Homo sapiens: one gene and its partners. The protein of the gene in region 1 interacts with the protein of each later gene in a biochemical or structural test. Each region holds a gene or a part of one and is shown in the gene's direction. Other genes may lie near its edges.

The links. Proteins that work in one complex are often made in the same cells at the same time.
Region 2: the proteins of DGKK (region 1) and PDZRN4 interact in a test that uses a peptide from one of them, tested with the Homo sapiens proteins (one large-scale study listed by IntAct).
Region 3: the proteins of DGKK (region 1) and CNKSR3 interact in a test that uses a peptide from one of them, tested with the Homo sapiens proteins (one large-scale study listed by IntAct).
Region 4: the proteins of DGKK (region 1) and PARD6G interact in a test that uses a peptide from one of them, tested with the Homo sapiens proteins (one large-scale study listed by IntAct).

The regions. Positions count from the first base shown.
Region 1 is NC_000023.11:50,366,623-50,371,017, reverse strand, and holds part of DGKK (diacylglycerol kinase kappa), read left to right. Parts: intron 1-468; coding exon 469-592; intron 593-1,998; coding exon 1,999-2,078; 3' UTR 2,079-4,395. UniProt on the Homo sapiens protein: Diacylglycerol kinase that converts diacylglycerol/DAG into phosphatidic acid/phosphatidate/PA and regulates the respective levels of these two bioactive lipids.
Region 2 is NC_000012.12:41,506,320-41,510,787, forward strand, and holds part of PDZRN4 (PDZ domain-containing RING finger protein 4), read left to right. Parts: intron 1-136; coding exon 137-393; intron 394-3,491; coding exon 3,492-3,594; intron 3,595-4,468.
Region 3 is NC_000006.12:154,412,218-154,416,685, reverse strand, and holds part of CNKSR3 (connector enhancer of kinase suppressor of ras 3), read left to right. Parts: intron 1-2,262; coding exon 2,263-2,387; intron 2,388-4,468. UniProt on the Homo sapiens protein: Involved in transepithelial sodium transport. Regulates aldosterone-induced and epithelial sodium channel (ENaC)-mediated sodium transport through regulation of ENaC cell surface expression.
Region 4 is NC_000018.10:80,201,547-80,206,014, reverse strand, and holds part of PARD6G (partitioning defective 6 homolog gamma), read left to right. Parts: intron 1-3,082; coding exon 3,083-3,305; intron 3,306-4,468. UniProt on the Homo sapiens protein: Adapter protein involved in asymmetrical cell division and cell polarization processes. May play a role in the formation of epithelial tight junctions. The PARD6-PARD3 complex links GTP-bound Rho small GTPases to atypical protein kinase C proteins.

The DNA.
Region 1 (4,395 bases):
CTATAAGAAGGTATTTGGCCAAGGCTCACCAAACTATATGTCTGAAGGAAGAGGTGTTTTTTCCTAATTCATGCAGAGATTCCATGTGAGCTAGCAGTGGCGCTAGCAATCTCATCCTTCTAATCCCTAGCCACATGAGCTCAGGTGAAATATTTAACCTCTCCAAGCTTCTGCTTCCTCATCTCTGATACAGGGATGTTAATAACCACTTTGCAAGGTTGCTTTGAGAGTTGTATGAGAGCATTTATTAATGCTAGCAAAGCACCTGGCATCAAGTAGCCTCTTGGTAAGGATCAATTGCTTTCCTAGGGCATGCGACCAGTGATGGGGGTGTTTCTCATACCTGGATAGAGAGCAGATCTCCCTGTTCTCTGTAGCCATTCTTGTTTACCACTTTTCCAGGACTCCAGCAATTATCTTTGAATATTAGGCAACTAACATTTTGACCTTCCTCTTGTGGTTTCTCAGGAAAAATCTTCGGACACTGACAGTAGAAGCCTCAGGCTGAAAATTAAGTTCCCCAAATTGGGAAAGAAAAAGGTAGAAGAGGAACGCAAGCCTAAATCAGGCCAGAGTGTCCAGAGTTTTATTGGTAAGTCTCCCCCACAGGCAGAGGGGTCATGAAGACTTCCCCCAACAGCCTGGCTACCTCCCAGGGACCTGAAGCCCCCATTAGAAATGTTTGTGGGAATGGTGATGATGAAGCGGGAGGCCATCTGGGAGTCAGCAGTAAGTGATACCAAGCCATATCTTGGACAAGGTGAGAGAAAGTGATATGGACACTGGTAAGGGGAGAACCTGTGTGGTCTCCATAACATATACAGAAAACAAAAATGCAAACAGGCGGTGATTTTTCTGCCTGATTCACTCCTAAGGGTCAGGAACAGGTTCTGTGGCCTATCTAAACACTTTTGTTCCTGTTATAGTAAGTGGTAGAAAAGCAACATATCTGTATATTTTATTGTTTGAATTTTGGTTCCATTTCTTCTTTCTTCAGAATTGGCCTTAAGCACTATTGACATATCAGTAGGATTCAAAAGAAGGTTCTCTTAGAGTTTTCAGTTGTGCCAATTCTGATGTAAATGGTGGTCCCTCCTAAATTTTGGTCCTAGACAACCTGGAAGCTTGAGAGATGCAGTAATAGTGGACATGGAAAAAAAAGGAACAGGTTCACACCTGTAATCCCAACACTTTGGAAGGCCGAGGCAGGCAGACTGTTTGAGCCCAGGAGTTCAAGACCAGCCTGGGCAACGTGGTGGGACCCTGCTGTCTCTACAAAAAATAAAAAATTAATAGGGCATGATGGTGTGCGTTTGTAGTCCTAGCTACTTGGGAGGCTGAGGTGGGAGGATTGCTTGAGCCTGGGAGGCTGAGGCTGCAGAGAGCTGTCATCATGCCACTGCTCTTCAGCTTGGGCAATAGAGTGAGACCTCATCTTGAAAGAAAGAGGAAGGAGGGAAGGAGGGAGGCAGGGAGGGGGAAGGAAGGAAGGAAGGAGGGAGAAAAAAAGAGGAAGAATAAAGAAAGGACGGAAGGAGAAAGAAAGGGAGCGAAATGAAAGAAAGAAGGAAAGAAAGAAAAAAAAGAAAAAAAGAAAGGGACAGAGGGTAGCAGTTTGTTTTCAAGGAACTAAGAGTTTGCACGAATGCCAAGAGAGAATCTCTTGGATCGAGCTGTATTTTCTCAGGTATGGTCGAACTGGTTTGATTCCTTAAGAGTCTGTCAATTGGGAGACAATAGTGTTTGCAAATATTTCTAAAGACTCTGACAGAGTCAATATCAGTTCCATAAATTATCAGGTTCTGAAAATTCATCCCATTTGTCTTTAGCTCACTTGGTTTCAGCTGGTTTTCCCTGATGATTCAGAGATGGTTAGTACAATAGGAACAAACCAGTCTATCTTCTAACAGACTTTTTGCTCTCTTTTGGGTCCACATACTTGGGCATCTGGCATTGTGCTAACCTCATTATTTCTATACCATTTTTTTTCCTCTGAAGGCAATTTATGGCACCGCAGACATCGTGAAGATGAAGCAGAGGGTGATGATCCTCTAACACCATCGAGATCTCAACTGTAGCCCTTGAAAGCTGGAAGAACTCACAACATTGAGAATTCTACTAAAAAAACTCTCAAAACCTCAATACAGGCTAGACTAAATCATTTCAGAACAAACATGAGCACCACCAAGAAAGACCCTCCAATTCTTTTCACTAATGCATTTTCCTGGACTTAATCTGGTCTCCTTAGAGGTTTACATTTCCTCATTGGCCAAAGGTTCTTGTTCCGAGTTGTCTTGTTCAGTTCTCCTTCTCTTTGTGCATCTTGAGCAACTACAGTATTTATTGGGATAAGCTCTTTATGAATGGCCTGGGATCTATAAAGGATTCAAGGGAGTTCACCTCTTCAGGGAGTTTTGGAATGGTTTTCTCTGACCAGCAGAGAAACTATCAATGCTAAGGAATGAATGAAAGACACACAGACTCCCAGGGAGATGAAGAGAAGGGGGCAGGCAGGACAGCCAGACTTGGTTGTGTGTCTCTCCGAATCCCTGCCAACTGCAACTTGCACCTTCAGGAGATCTCTTCTAGTTGGCTCATTAAAATGAGAACTAGATCCTGGGGGCTTGTCCACTTTCCTGTTAAGATGACCATGTGAAATCTCTTTTTGTAGATATGGTAACCTCTCTCTCTCTCTGCAAACCCTTTGCGTTTTTCTATGTGTGCTTGTATGTCTGCATATGTCCAGGTGGTGCTCTGGTGGGCTCATTGGTTGGAACTCACCCCTCATGGCAACCATACAGGCTCCCCTCCTGCTGCCTTGATCCTAGCCTGCATGCCTCCACGGAGTGTTTGCCTGCATTCTTGCTGGATTTTTTAACTAAATGTTTTGCCGCTGTGCTGCAGTATAGATTATGTATAGAGACATAAAGATGTATATATATATACATACGCATATATATTTTTAAGAGCTGAAAATACAACTCGACCTCTAAGTGACCCTATAATTTATTGTGCTAATCCAGGAATCCCTTCCCACTCCCCCTTACTCTACATAACAATAACACATACACCTCTACCAACTGCCCTATTTCTTGGTGGAGCTTCTAAATCTTTTGGTGCATTTTCAGCGTCTTAGAGGTGGCTGGGATCTATGGCCCAGCTGATTCTGACGCCCCCTTAAAATTCTGAGCCAGGCCATGGAAAGGGGAACAAAAACACCAATGCCCTAAAGAAGGGGTTTAAGCTGGCATGCTGCCTTTTTTTGCTCTATCTGTCCTAGACTCTTCATCAGCAACTGTGCCCTTCCCCAATAAAAAGACTATATGGAGCAACCAGGCCTTGAGCTCTGTGACTTAGATGCCTGAACTAGGGACTGCCTGACAATTAAGTCACAGCCTAGGCCCTTCCCCACAAGCTCCATCTTGGCCTGATCTTCTGGACAGGCTGTTGGGTCAGTCCTCAAGTCACCTTCAAATCTCCCATCTTGCCCTTTTCCCTTGAGTACAGAGGGGCATTGAAGTGATCAGAAAAAACATGGGCCTGGAGAAATGAAGGCTAGAAGCCTGTGCTTTCCTGTGGTTCTTCTTGCAAATTTCTCATGAAAACAAACTATTCCTAAATCGCTCCAAATACTAATTCACATTTTTCAAAAATGCCTTCTCCCAGTCAGGGCAAATCTAATCAAACCCCAATGCCCAGAGAGGTTCTCTCTGGTCAGCCTTGCATCTTCACCCCACCCTTGACTCATACCTTTAGTTAACTGTCCCTTCCCACTTATCAAGAGAAAACTGGCCTCTCCCTACTTCTCAGACAAACTTAGCGTGCTCAATTACCTGATTCAGTCCAATGGCTGGTTCATTGAGGTGCACAATTCAGATTCCAAGCACTGGTTCTCAACTCTGGAACTCCACCAGCCTAACCCACTTAAACCAGCCACCTGTGCTCCACCTCCGCAGGGGTGAGGAGAAAAATATTAACAAGGGGATAGTCCCCAAATGTCTGATTGCTGTGCCAAACTAAGTCCTAGCTCTACAACTAGAGAAGAAAGTCAATGGAAAAAGATGACAGAAAACATTTAAAACTTATTTAAGCATCAGAATGTGTTAGCTTGTTGTACATATTTGAGTAGTGAGTGTGCTGTTGTTGTGTCTTTGACTTTCTCTGTTATTAGTCTTTCTTCCCAGGAGGAGGTATTAGATGAAATCAGCAAGCTCACTATTGCAGCCTGACTTGGCTCCTCTATGGCTGCATGCATTGACACCTGCACACACACTCACAGAGTGGGAACCAAGTTGCATTTTCTTCAGAAGAGCTTTTTCCGAAGGGGAAAATGTCCAAATGAGCAAATTTAGGACTACAGAAGGAAGTCCTGGGAGAAGATAGCTTTATCTTGGC
Region 2 (4,468 bases), on another chromosome or scaffold:
AATATCTGATTAAATATTCCATTACAAAATTCATATCAGGGCTGGTTGAAACCTTTCTCTCTGTCTTTTATTAATCTATCATGACAGCCTCTCTGATCTTTCCTCTGAGATGAACAATGTCCTTATATGTTTGTAGGTCAATGGGAAGGATCTTTCAAAGGCCACTCATGAAGAGGCAGTGGAAGCTTTTCGCAATGCCAAGGAGCCCATTGTGGTGCAGGTGTTAAGGCGAACACCTCTTAGTAGACCAGCCTATGGGATGGCTTCAGAAGTGCAGCTTATGAATGCCAGCACTCAGACGGACATCACCTTCGAACACATCATGGCTCTGGCCAAGCTTCGTCCACCTACCCCTCCAGTGCCAGACATCTGTCCATTCCTGCTCTCAGACAGGTATTTTTCTATCATTTCTTCCAAAGCCCTGTTTGTTTCCATTTGTCACGTAAAGCAGATGTTGAAAAGAAGCAGTTCCACTAGCAGGTTGACAGTTATGGAGACAGGCTTCCCAGCTCCGTTTGGAAAATGTCTCCCCTGTTTTGATATGTGCAATTAGTTCTCAGTGGTCCCTGCTAGCTACTCTCCCTGACCCACATGGTTGCTCCACCTGGGTAATCATACTTGCTAGCTGCTGTGAAAAATTCTGGCTCTGATTAGTTCATCTTCATATTACTAGCTGTCAAAAGCCTCATGCTACTCATGAACACTGGTCAGGGAAATCACTTTTCTCACCAAAGCTGCCAAAAACCTTATTAAGACTCATGTGGAAGTGGCATCTTGGCACCACATTCTCCTCTGTGGGCCACCTCTCTCTCTTCCTTGCATTTCTCTTCTTTAAAGAGAAGCTAGGAAATTGATTTAATTAAAGTGCAATTCTCTGACGAAAGCACTTACCCAATATATTGAGATATAAACAAAGGATCTTGGCTGTCAGAGAGTAAGTATAGTGCTATCAAATAAAGATCTATTCAAGGAATACTTCCTCCTGATTTTTGCCTAATTTAAAGGAAGTCAGAGAGATTTTATTCAAATAATCCTACTTGAACAGTTTTAAAAGTATGCTTGCCCAATTCATTGTGTTCTGTGAGCTTTCGAGCAAATATTCAAACATTGAGAGTTTGTAAGAGCAATAGTCTCCTTAGCCTGCATTTTCATCACCTACTCCAATCCGCTCTCTACTTCATAAAACAAAGATCTGAGTCATGCCACTTTCCTGCCCTTTGATGGCTGGCTCCCATAAGCCCGTTTCAGTGGGTCACAGATGTACAATAGAATCACCTGGGAACTTTCAGAAGCTGTATCAGTACCTGAATCACTCCTTAGGCCAATTAAATGAGAATTCTTAGAGTAAGGCTTAGGCATCAGAAATTTTCAAAAGTCTCCCTAGGCAATCCTAATGTGCAGCCAAGTTTTGAAAACACTTCTTGAGACTTCGAGTTCCAGGAAGGCAGGGGATCTGTTTGTCTTGGGTATCTCTTTATTTTAAATAGCCCTTTGTATCAGACACAAATTGGATGTGTCAGGGCTTGCAACTAGATGCTTGGCATAAAACTATGAACAAAAATAAAGTCACTGCCTTCTAGAGTTTATATTCTACAAGGGGAGTTGAACAAAAAGCAAGGAAACAAATATATAATATTCATTAATACAGCCTAAAACATAGTAGCCATCCAACAAATACTTCCTTGAATGAATAATAATAGCTAGCTTGTATTAGCTAACTTAACATGCTTTCAGTATTATTCCAAACGTTTTGCATTTATTGACTCATTTAGTTCTCACAATAATCTTAGGAGGGAGTACATTATATTATCAACATTCTATGTCTAAGATGAGGGAACAGATATTAAGTAACATGGCCAAGATCACATAGCAAAAAAGTGACAGGGCCAGGCTTCTAGGCCTAAGAGGTCTGACCCCAATGCCTACCCCCTTAGCCAGTGCATCTTGCTGCTCTTCCTAGGTCCTGCAGACCTTAGCTTAGAGACAACCTCCTCTAGAAAACTTCCTAGGGCTGCAGTGGGTCCACCCCTACCATGTGCTCCCAAGGCTCCTGTATTTTTCCCTTAATTATTGCACTGTATTAAAATTCCCACTTTGCTGCTTTCCCCAATTAATAGGGCAGAATTGGATTTTGTAAACCAACATATTTCCAGCACTTGGCCTTGCATCTGGCAGCCACTAAATAAACGTCGAATGAATAAAGTGTTCCTCACAGCAGGGCTCCCTTCTTACTATCCGAAAGACAAGGGAAACACATCAGATGTCCAAAGCAGCAGGCTTCGATATTCCAAGAGCCCAAAAGGGCTATGCGGACCCAGTCCAGCTATAAGCAAGGAGATTTATCTGGTAGACACAAGGCAAGGTGCTGCCTGTATTACTTTTACCATTTTGGCCTACACTAGTTAGACCTGTGTGGAGCTGACAGCCATAGATAGTAGTGAGGAGAGGCTGGTAGAATATTTACGCTGACTATAGTATGAGGGCATGAGGATGGGTCTCTTGCCTTTCAACAAGGGAGAAGGGAACTAATTGATACTGCTATCTCCAATTTTTCAAAAAGATCCACACTGGCAGGAGTTAGAGGTCTCATCTGCAACCAACTTGTCAATTGTATTTAGGCTTTTTCAGTGTCTTTTAGAAATAGAAAAGGCCTTATGCTCTTTGCTGTTAAACTATGCTTAGTCTTCATATGGTATGATGTGTAGTCTTTATATCAGAACATACTAAATCGAATAACATGTTTACAAACTATTTAAAAATTTCCTAAAAGTTGAAATACATAAAAGCCATATCCTCTCATTTCCTTAATGTAATCTGCTCTCTCTGTCACTGAGAATTTTCTAAAGGTATTTTGAAACCTTGTGGCTTATAGGAGTTTCCACTGATTGATCGCCATGAATGTTCTTTAATATTTGTGTATATGTCCTTGATCAAAGAGGGGAAAATGTGCATTATGAGGGAGAGTGAGAAAGGGGGATCTTAAGAAAGAGAGGAGGGGACAATGTGAGCACATTTTAGAGTCTGAAAAAATAAGTGCTTTTGAAAATGGTTTTCAAAAAATAGTTTGCAGCTGTGGATTATGAAATTGGTAGTACTTTATGACAAAATACCCCTCTTTGAGTAGACTGCAATCTCAAATGCCACACACCCACGTATGGAGCTTGTCACATTCAGTGGAATGGAAGCAGGCCAGAAAGTATCAATAAAGCACCACGGACTGTCAGAGATTTCACATCAGTCTTTCCACAGAATACAACTCTGACCATAGGCCCTTATTCCTAGCATTCTCTCAGAAATTGCAAATTGATGGACTTCACGTAGAGGGAGAAAGAAAAGCTATTGCTTTTCCTCAGCTGTAGTTTGTTTAAAGACTAGATCACTACAGATCTTATTCCAAAGCAGAGCAAACTAAAGTGAAATTCTAAAATCAGTTTTAATCTGGAAAACAACCCATTTAATCTATTCCTATCATATTGCTACATTCCCCATAGCTGCCATTCTCTACATCCAATGGAGCATGAATTTTATGAGGACAATGAGTATATTTCCAGCTTGCCTGCTGATGCAGACAGAACAGAAGACTTTGAATATGAGGTAAGGTCATTTTCATACCACTTCACATTTCTTCATGAAGTTACGGTTGAGGGGTTTTGTATAACAAAGAAATTAATTTATTACAGTGAGAAATGTCTTGTCTATTACATATCCAGTGTAAGATCTTTCAAATACTATTTGCTTTAGCTATGTGGCTCTCGTGTTTTAAGTATATTGGAAAATATTTTTATAGTATAAGCTTAAATATAATTTGCTCTCATTTTGTTGCTTTTTAATAAATAATATTGCAACAGCTACATTTTTAAAATCTGTTCTATAATATATGTGGATTTCCAAGTGGAGTTTGAAAAATATATTTAAAACAAAGATTGTGTTTACTATTTTCATTTGTTGTATAATATTCTAATTTTCATTGATAAACTAAATTTTATTATATTGTATTCTTTGGAAATGCAATACTCTCTTTGTGCCTCTGGTCTGTACTCTAAAGAGCCATTTCACAGACTTCCTAGAAATAGAGATGGCCTCATGCCCTTTGTTGTTAAACTATATTTATTCTTCACATGGTTTAATGTCAGAATATCTGTACTGTGATATATAACAATTCGAAAAGTCCATCCATTGATTATTTAAAAGCTCTCACAAAAGTTAAAGAATGTATCCTAATATTTCCTCTGCTTCTGCAGCCTGAATATCTTTGAAAGGTTTCAGACTACTCTGACATTTAAAAATAAAATAGATTGAGGAAGTAAAGAAGCTTTGGTAAACAGGCAGAGAACCCATGGTCACCTGCCCTTTTAATGCTTCAGGTGATGTCATACAAGTTCAGCAAAGTGTTCTCTTCCACTTTACAACCAGGAAATCCTGAAATCTCTTCCCTTAGGAGGATCTGAAATCAAATAAGGAAGCTCAT
Region 3 (4,468 bases), on another chromosome or scaffold:
CACCCACCCTTCTCAGAAGAGAGCTCTAAGTTGTTCAACATCATTACTGTTGTCCTATCATAGAAAAGGCATTCACCACTCTGTTTTGATGCCACACTCCTGGGAAATGAGAGTTACTGATATAGAAGTAATTATCAATATGTGTGTTTTCAGGGAGCATCAATTTTGTGGAAATGTTCTAGTTTACTTTTGCTTCTAAGATTTGGAGAATCTGGATCCTGGCCTCATGTTTTCAGATATGGTCCGAAATTGACATGTTGAGATGTCAATCAATTACAAATTGAGTAGAATTGATAGATTATGCATTAATGGCCACGGTTTAAAATATGGGGGTTCTACTCTGGAAGACTGAAAGCTCAGTCCCTGCCCCTGTGACTTGGTATCTCTCCTGAAAATGAGCTGTCCTCTGTGAATCTCCTGGTGGCCATGTCTAGCTCCGTCACACTGGCTAGTCAGTCCTTTCAATCCTTAGAATCAGGTCACAGTTTCACTTCAGAGATCTCTTCCATTACAACCAGGCTGGGTAGGGTTGAAGGGTAGCTTTTTGTTTTCGTTTTTGTTTTTTTTGGTAGAGACGGGGCTTCATTATTTTCTCTAGGCTGATCTTGAACTCTCGAGCTCAAGTGATCTACCTGCCTCAGACTCCCAAAGTGTTGGGATTATTACAGGTGTGTGCCCACACGCTGGGCCTAAGGGTACCTTTTTATGTCTGCCCAGGGCTTGGCACAGTCTCACTGGCCTTCACCAAATATTTCCCTGCCTTGACTCCAAGATTTCCTTGCTGTTCTTTACCAACCAGAAAAATCATTGTTGTCATTGTTAGATTGTAGAAGGTAAGATTGAAGTTCTCACATGAGATATTAAAAACCATGTCCTTTGAGACCAGTATCATAGTTCAAACTCAGCCATGTGGATTTGAAGTTAAGATTAACTCGTATATATGAATGCATATATGTATAAATAGTACTAAAATAAACGGTATAAGGTTGTGTATTTTCTATGGGAAAGCAGTGTCCTAAGTTGTTTACATGTGTTACCTTACTTAATTCTCACAGCCACCCTATGTTGGTGCTATCCTTGTCCCTATTTATTCTCATTTTATAGATGGGGCACAGAGACATTGTGTGACTTGCTCAACAATAAACAGCTAATAAGGGCTGTGCGTGGTGGTTCACACCTGTAATCCCAGCACTTTGGGAGGCTGAGGTGGGCGGATCACCTGTGGTCAGGAGTTTGAGACCAGCCTGGCCAACATGGCAAAACGCCATCTCTACTAAACATACAAAAATTAGCTGGGTGTGGTGGCACGCACCTGTAATCCCAGCTACTTGGGAGGCTGAGGTAGGAGAATCACTTGAACCCAGGAGGCACAGGTTGCAGTGAGCCAAGATGGCGCCACTGTGCTCCAGCCTGGGAGACAGAGGCAGACTCCATCTTAAAAAAAAAAAAAAAAAAAATGGGCAGCTAGTAAGTCTAGCCAGGATCACATCCAGAGTTCCAAGCAATACTCCTAGTCAATAGTAGCACTGCTACTGATTGCTTTTTCTTTTCTTTTCTTTCTTGTTTTTTTTTTTTTTTTTTTTTTTTTGAGACAGAGTCTCACTCTGTTACCCAGGCTGGAGTGCAGTGGTACACTCTTCGCTCACTGCAACTTCTGCCTCCTGGGCTCAAGCAATCCTCCCATCTCATCATCCCAAGTAGCTGGGACTACAGGCGTGTGCCACCACGCCTGGCTAATTTTTATATTTTTTTCGTAGGGACTGGGTATCGCCATGTTGCCCAGGCTGGTCTCGAAGTCCTGAGCTCAAGCAATCCATTGTCCACCTTGGCCTCCCAAAGTGCTGGGGTAACAGGCAAGAACCGCCGTGCCCAGCCTTGCTAGTAATTTTCATGAACTAACTCATCTAATTCTCACTGCAGCTCTATGCAAGAGATATTATCAGTATCACTCCTTTACAGAAGAGGAAAGGGAGGCCACAGATGTTTAAGTGATTTGCTCAGAGCTAGAGTCATAACCCTGGCACCTGGCTCCTAAGCCTCTGCTTCTTGCCACTATACATCGTCATTCAAATCCCTCAGCTCATTCTAAGGTTTCAAAGAAGAATGTAAGTTAAATATTGCCAATATCTGTAAACACATGAATGACCTCAGTCCCTGTTCAGACACGGGGTTGGTGTTGGTTTGGGGGAGGGGAAATAAACACCAAGAATCATCTCTGAATTGATCTCCACTCTTTGCATTGCTGTGTTACTCCTGTTTCAGACCTCACCTCCACCCGCGACAACCCAGTCCCCTGAAAGCACTATGGATACCTCACTGAAGAAGGAGAAGTCAGCCATCCTGGATCTTTATATTCCTCCTCCGCCTGCTGTTCCCTACTCTCCCCGGTATGTTGCTGTCCATTGTCATGGTATGCTTGTCTCCTGTTGGTGTCATTTGTAAATGGTGGTGTGAAAAGAGGATCTTGAGAGAGGAAGTTGCTGAGCCACAGTGTGACAGGGCTGAATCTTGAACTGCCGTTAAAAGTATGATCAGCCTTATTTTATAGGAGTGTAGGGACATATCTGGGTTCTGTGGGGCTTGAAGCTATACAGTTTGGTGGGGAGGGCCCTTCTGAGAAAAGAATATGGCAGTATTGGCCAGGTGTGGTCGCTCACACCTGTAATCCCAGCACTTTGGGTGGCTGAGGCGGGCAGATCACTTGAGCTCAGGAGTTCAAGACCAGCCTGGGCAACATGGTAAAACCTCATCTCTATAAAAAAATACAAAAATTAGCTGAGTTTGGTGGCAGATGCCTGTAGTCCCAGCTACTCAGGAGGTTGAGGCAGGAAAATCGCTTGAGCCTAGGAGGTGGAGGTTGCAGTGAGCAGAGTTTGTGCCATTGCAATCCAGCCTGGGTGACAGAGCGAGACCCTGTCTCAAAAAAGAAACAAAAGGATATAGCAATACCTTACTTTTGAAAAACGAATGAAAACGTGCTCTCCTGGGGCCTTGGAAGGGTCTATTGGGGGCCCTGCAGGTTAAGTTTCATTAACTCCATGGTAAATTCATCTTGAGGGGGTAGATAATAAGTATTTCTGTGAGATTAATGAGAGTTGCAGCTTGATTTTGCTGAGAAAGATGTGTTCTTCATAGAACTTGAAAAAAAACCTATGTGGCCAGGTATGGTGTCTCACGCCAATATTTCCAGCACTTTGGAAGGCCAGTTCAGAGGATTGCTTGAGCCCAGAAGTTCAAGACCAGCCTGGGGAATATAGTGAGGCCCCATCTCTACAAAAAATTTAAAAAATTAGCTGGGTGTGGTTGTGTGCACCCGTGGTCCTAGCTACTCAGGAGGCTGAGGTGGTAGGATCACTGGAGCCCAGGAGGTCGAGGCTGCAGTACAATACACCATGATCATACCACTGCACTCCAGCCTGGACAACAGAGTGAGACCTAGTCTCAAAAACAAAAAAACAAAAAACAGAAAAACTCAGACCTTGTGAGTGTAGGTATGAACATTTCATATTTGTGTGTGTGTGTGTGTGTGTGTGTGTGTGTGTGTGTACCATAAATTCTTAAAAAGATAGTTGCTTTCTTCATGGCTAACTTGAATACTGTATGGTATAATGAGGGTGGTATATAGAGTGTACAGGATGATTTAGGTGTGATCTAGGCTTATTTTTATCAACTCACATATTTATATATGTTGATAAAACTAGACAATCTGGCTCATTTATTCAGCATATCTTTCCTGAGTATTGGGTCTGGGTTACCCTCTGACACAAAACAGACTCGGTCTTTGACCCTACAGAACTGCCAGGGTCTTATTCAACAATTCAAGCATATATTGAGAAATATATGATTAGGTTATAATATTTCATAAAACAAAGTTCAGGCTGGATTTTATTACAGTGACATTTTACTTTCTATCAGAATTTTTTGTTTGTTGGTTTTCATTTGAAGCTGAGGTATTTGCTTCATTGTATTTCTTCTGCATTGGGTGCAGAGATTCAACATTGTTTTCCATTTCCTTGAGTCTTGGCTTACTCAGAACTTATTATAGCGTGTAGAGAATGTACCTCAGGTGATCGGGGCATTCTGGTTTGCAGGATCTTAAGTGTGTTTAAAGTTACAGGTAGTCTTTCCCTCTGCATATAGAGAGCATGACATTCCACTACTAATGTGTGGATTGTTCTATCAGAAACTGGAGGAAGGCACCCTCCCTTGATCCAGAATATTCTTGTCTGGGTTCCTGGAGTAGTGGCAAGAAAAGGGGTGCTGTGTACATAGTGAGAGATAAAGGAACCTGGGGCTAGGAGGAGAGCTGGATTAAACTGCTCGGGAAGACGCTTTTGAGAGTGCACACACACCACTCATGAAGGATTTTCTGAGGAATGAAAAATGGGAATGGATTACTGAGAAACAAGTCATGAGTCATGAAAGCTTTGTGAATGGGGAGTTATATGCCCGGTTTAAAGGTATGGAA
Region 4 (4,468 bases), on another chromosome or scaffold:
TATGCTGTTTCAGGGAGGCCTGGCGTTCCTGAGGTGAAAGTGAGCTGTATCCCTTTGCGGTGATACTGAAGTGAGAATTATATAAAATTCAAAAACACTCTTACTAGTTGCATTAGACATGATTAAATTATCTTATGTATTCAGTTAAACGAAAGCCATATAGTGATACAAGGAAATTGCTTTGGAAGTTGGTATATGTATTAGTCCATTCTCACATAGCTGTAAAGAAAGACTACAGACTGGGTGGTTTATAAAGAAAAGAGACTTAATTGGCTCACGGTTCCACAGGCTGCACAGGAAGCATGGTGACCATCTGCTCCTGGGACGGCCTCAGGGAGCTTTTACTCATGGCAGAAGGCAAGATGGGAGTAGGCATCCTACATGGCAGGAGCAGGACTAAAAGAGGGGGAAGGTGCTACACACTTTTAAAACAACCAGATCTCGTGATCACTCACTCACTCACCATCACAAGAACAGCACCTGGAGTTGGGCTTAACCATTCATAAGAGCTCTGCCCTCATGATCCAGTCACCTCCCACCAGGCCCCTCCTCCAACACTGGGGATTACAATTCACCATGAGACCTGGGTGGGGACACAGATGCAAACCGTGTGAGTATATATGAGCTATGTGAGATGGGAAAGACAAGGATTGATGTTAGTGAAATAAATGCTTTGTGATCTGAAAGATACCGCATAAAACTGATGTTGTAGGCTTTACATGTGTGTCTTAAAGTTTTGGAGCCCCTGTGTGTGAAAGAATCTGCATCGCCTACATGCTGTACCAGTGTCATCCTTGGGTGAACGTTTCCCCTTGAATAACGGGGAGAGATTTCAAGGGTTTGCTCTGCTCTGCACTTCTGACAATAGCAGGAGATAGAGGAGAGCCCTTTCCTCTGCCCCTTCCAGGGTGCAGCCGTGTTCAGAGCATGTAACTGTCCAAATACCAAGTTCTGGGGTCCCACTTCTTCCCTTACTGAGTATGTAGACCGTAGGTTAGAGGGGCTTTGATTAGTCATTGAAAGTGGCTTTTCCCAAACTATTGTTATTATTATTATTATTATTAAGACTGAGTCTCACTCTTTTGCCCAGGCTGGAGTGCGGTGGCATGATCTTGGCTCACTGCAACCTCCACCTCCCAGGTTCAAGGGATTCTCCTGCCTCAGACTCCTGAGATTGCTGGGATTACTGGTGTGTGCCACCATGCCTGGCTCATTTTTTGGTACTTTTAGTAGAGATGGGGTTTCACCATGTTGGCCAGGCTGGTCTTGAACTCCTGACCTCAAGTAATCTGCCCGCCTTGGCCTCCCAAACTGCTGGGATTACAGGCGTGAGCCACCATGCCTGCCCCAAGCCAGTATTTTGAATTGTCCCATTGTTGTAGGCCCTGGAGATTTTTTTTTTTTTTTTAATTGCTGAGGGCAGTGCACAATGGATGAGAGGTTTGTTTTGCTTTTGGTAACCTGGGGGAAGTGCTTTTTGAAAGGGAGGTAGAAAAGGAGATTTGTTCTTGAGCAATTCAGTTTCACAAAGAATCTGTGGAGGTTAAGGTCTAGTGGCTGATTCCCATAAAACCAGTGGTTCTCTGTGTGTGGTCCCCAGATCAATAGCATCAGCTCTTTCAGGAACTTGTTAAAATGCAGATTCTTAGGCTGTACCTCAGCACAGTCAAATCCAGAACTCTGGGGGGCCTCCAGGTGATCCTGGCACAAACACGTCTGATCTTAGATGACCTTCCCTGACTCATTCATACAATGTCTAGATGATATAATGACTAGTTTTCCATAAACATTACTTTATTTGTATATATTTTGGAACCAATCTAATTAGTTTTCAACTGTATATGTACCACCTGATGAATAAAGATCCCGAATTGCCGAGTGAGGAATGACAGGAGCCGGAACCCTTGGGCATGACCCTAACCTCATGTCCCCCTGGGGTCCTCTCTTGGAGGGTATCCTGGAGCTCTGCGGGCAGCTCATGGGCATCTGAGCCAGGGTTGGGGTCTGCTGGAAAAGAGGTTAGTCCCTAGATGTTTCCCAAACCTGGACCACCTAATGACAGCTCCTGAGGCGGGTGTACATGTCGCCTTTAGGAAAAAGACCAGACCATCATCCTGTCTCCCTTGGACTTGTATGATTTTAACCAGGTTCCTTTATTCTTGCAATTTCATGTCTACTTCTGATCCTTTTGAAATGTAACCATTACTAAAGTACAAATCAAATGAAGACACTTCCTAGCTTAAAATTAAGACCCGTAAGGTCTTAATGGTCTTTTGCCTTTGGAAACAGTCCCGAGGTTTCATCCGGCCTTGCGTCCTCTCCTGCCTCTGAGTTTCCTAAGCCCTGCCCCAAGCTGTGCAGATGTCCCTTCAGCAACCACAGATGAGGCAAGGGACCTTGCTGAGGAAGGATTCTCCTTTCATGCCACCCAAAAAATTAACATTAATTTTGACGTTGCTTTTTCCTACAACATGAGCTACACAGCCCGTCCTATCCTGTCCTCAGGATATTCATCTGTGTTGATGACTGAGCTGTCCCTCGGTCAGTGTGGACGAGAGGGCCGTCCTGGGTCTCTGTGGATGAGCGAGCTGCTGCCTGAGTCACTACTGCTTTTAATTGTTTAGGGTCCCTCTTCCTGTATTATAATTTCTTATTTAGTCACTGTGAGCTCTGTGAGAACTGAGCTGTTTGTCACTATCTCCCCAGGCCCTTGTGGAGAATTAATAAATACTTGTCCTTTTATTTTCTTAATACAACATTTTAAATTCATCAGCCTCTGTAGCAAACAGTATGAGATATCTCAGAGAACTGAAAATAGAGTTACCATTGGATCCAGCAGTCTTACTATTGTGTTTCTACCCAAAGGAAGAGAAATCGTATTAAAAGCATTTGTAGCTTCATTCCAGCACTATTCATAATAGCAAAGATGAAATCAACTTATGTGTCTATCAGTGGATGATTGATTAAAGAAAATGTGGAATGTAAATACTTGTTTGTTAAGTACACTAACCACACCTTATTTCTGGATATTTCTCTGGTATTTATTAATGCCCCTCCCCCCACCCCGTCTCTTGCATTGTAGTTTGGGGCGGAATTCCGAAGGTTCTCTCTGGACCGTCATAAGCCTGGGAAGTTTGAAGATTTCTACAAGCTGGTTGTGCACACCCACCATATCTCCAACAGTGATGTAACTATTGGCTATGCAGATGTGCACGGAGACCTGCTGCCCATCAACAATGATGACAACTTCTGCAAGGCGGTTTCTAGTGCAAATCCCCTGCTCAGGGTCTTCATCCAGAAACGAGGTACTGAAGTGGTTGAGTGGCCGGCTGGTCTTGTTGAGAAATCATTTTTAAAATACAGTTTTCAATTTTTTCTGTCATTACAGGACTATGTGGTTCGTTTTCTAACCTGTAGTAGGAGATTAAAGAAATTAAAAATTGTTTCATCAGCATTAATAGACAAAATACTAAACTGTGTTTTCTACTTTAAATGATATTGACTTCTGACTTTTAAATACTGAAGAAAGAATAATATTGATACTTCCAGTCATTTAACTAGAAGTGAAATGACTCAGTGATAAGGAGGCTTGAGTCAGTGGCCTCAGAATGAAACTTGGGGTTACGGTGCATGCCCTCCATCATCTTGTTAGGAGGAGGGAGCATGTTAGCTTTCGATGATAACTTTGGTTAACTTTTAGCTCTGAGGCCCAGTTTCGCTATAAGTAATAATATCATTTTATGTTAAAATAAATTACTAACATAGGTTAATGGCTGAAAGGGAAGGGGTGCCCTACTGCTGACTTATTGTGGGACCTCATACTGCTCACGTCTCTGGACTGCATTTAGATTTTTTTTCCATCTCCAAACTTCGGAGAACCTTGTTGTTTCAAAATAATATGCTGAAAGAAAGAAGCACCTGCAGGTGAGGCTTGATATTGGGAAAATGGCATTTTTATAACTGACTGCCTCTCCTTTGGGCGGCCCCACGGTGCAGGTGGTGAACACTGACCACCTCAAGGAACCAAGCAGCCAGTGGTGACAGTTGCAAGGTGAGGTTGCAGTGTGCCCTGTCTGCCCTCATGGATCTGCTGCCAGAGTCTCTGGGACAGCTAGGAGAGGTTTCCCGGAGGAAAGGCTGAGCTGAGACTAGAGGAAGCAGCAGCAGGGTGCTGGGTGGGAGGCGGGCTGGGCGAGTTCTCAGACGAGGCCCTCCGCCTCCTTCACCCCAGCGTCCTGCTTTGCAAAACGAGGGTCCTCATAGTAACCCCCATCCAGTTTCTGTGAGGGTGATGCTGAGCAGCGTGCTGCCAGCTCCTCGTCCCTGCTCTGTAAATACTAGCTATGGCTGTTATTCCCATTTGTGGTGATGAAGGGAACGGCAGGAGACTCGTTGACCTCACTTCAGACAGATTCTCTGGCACAAGATCAGAACACTCTGCATCTGCAGTTCTCACTGGGCCTGGGTA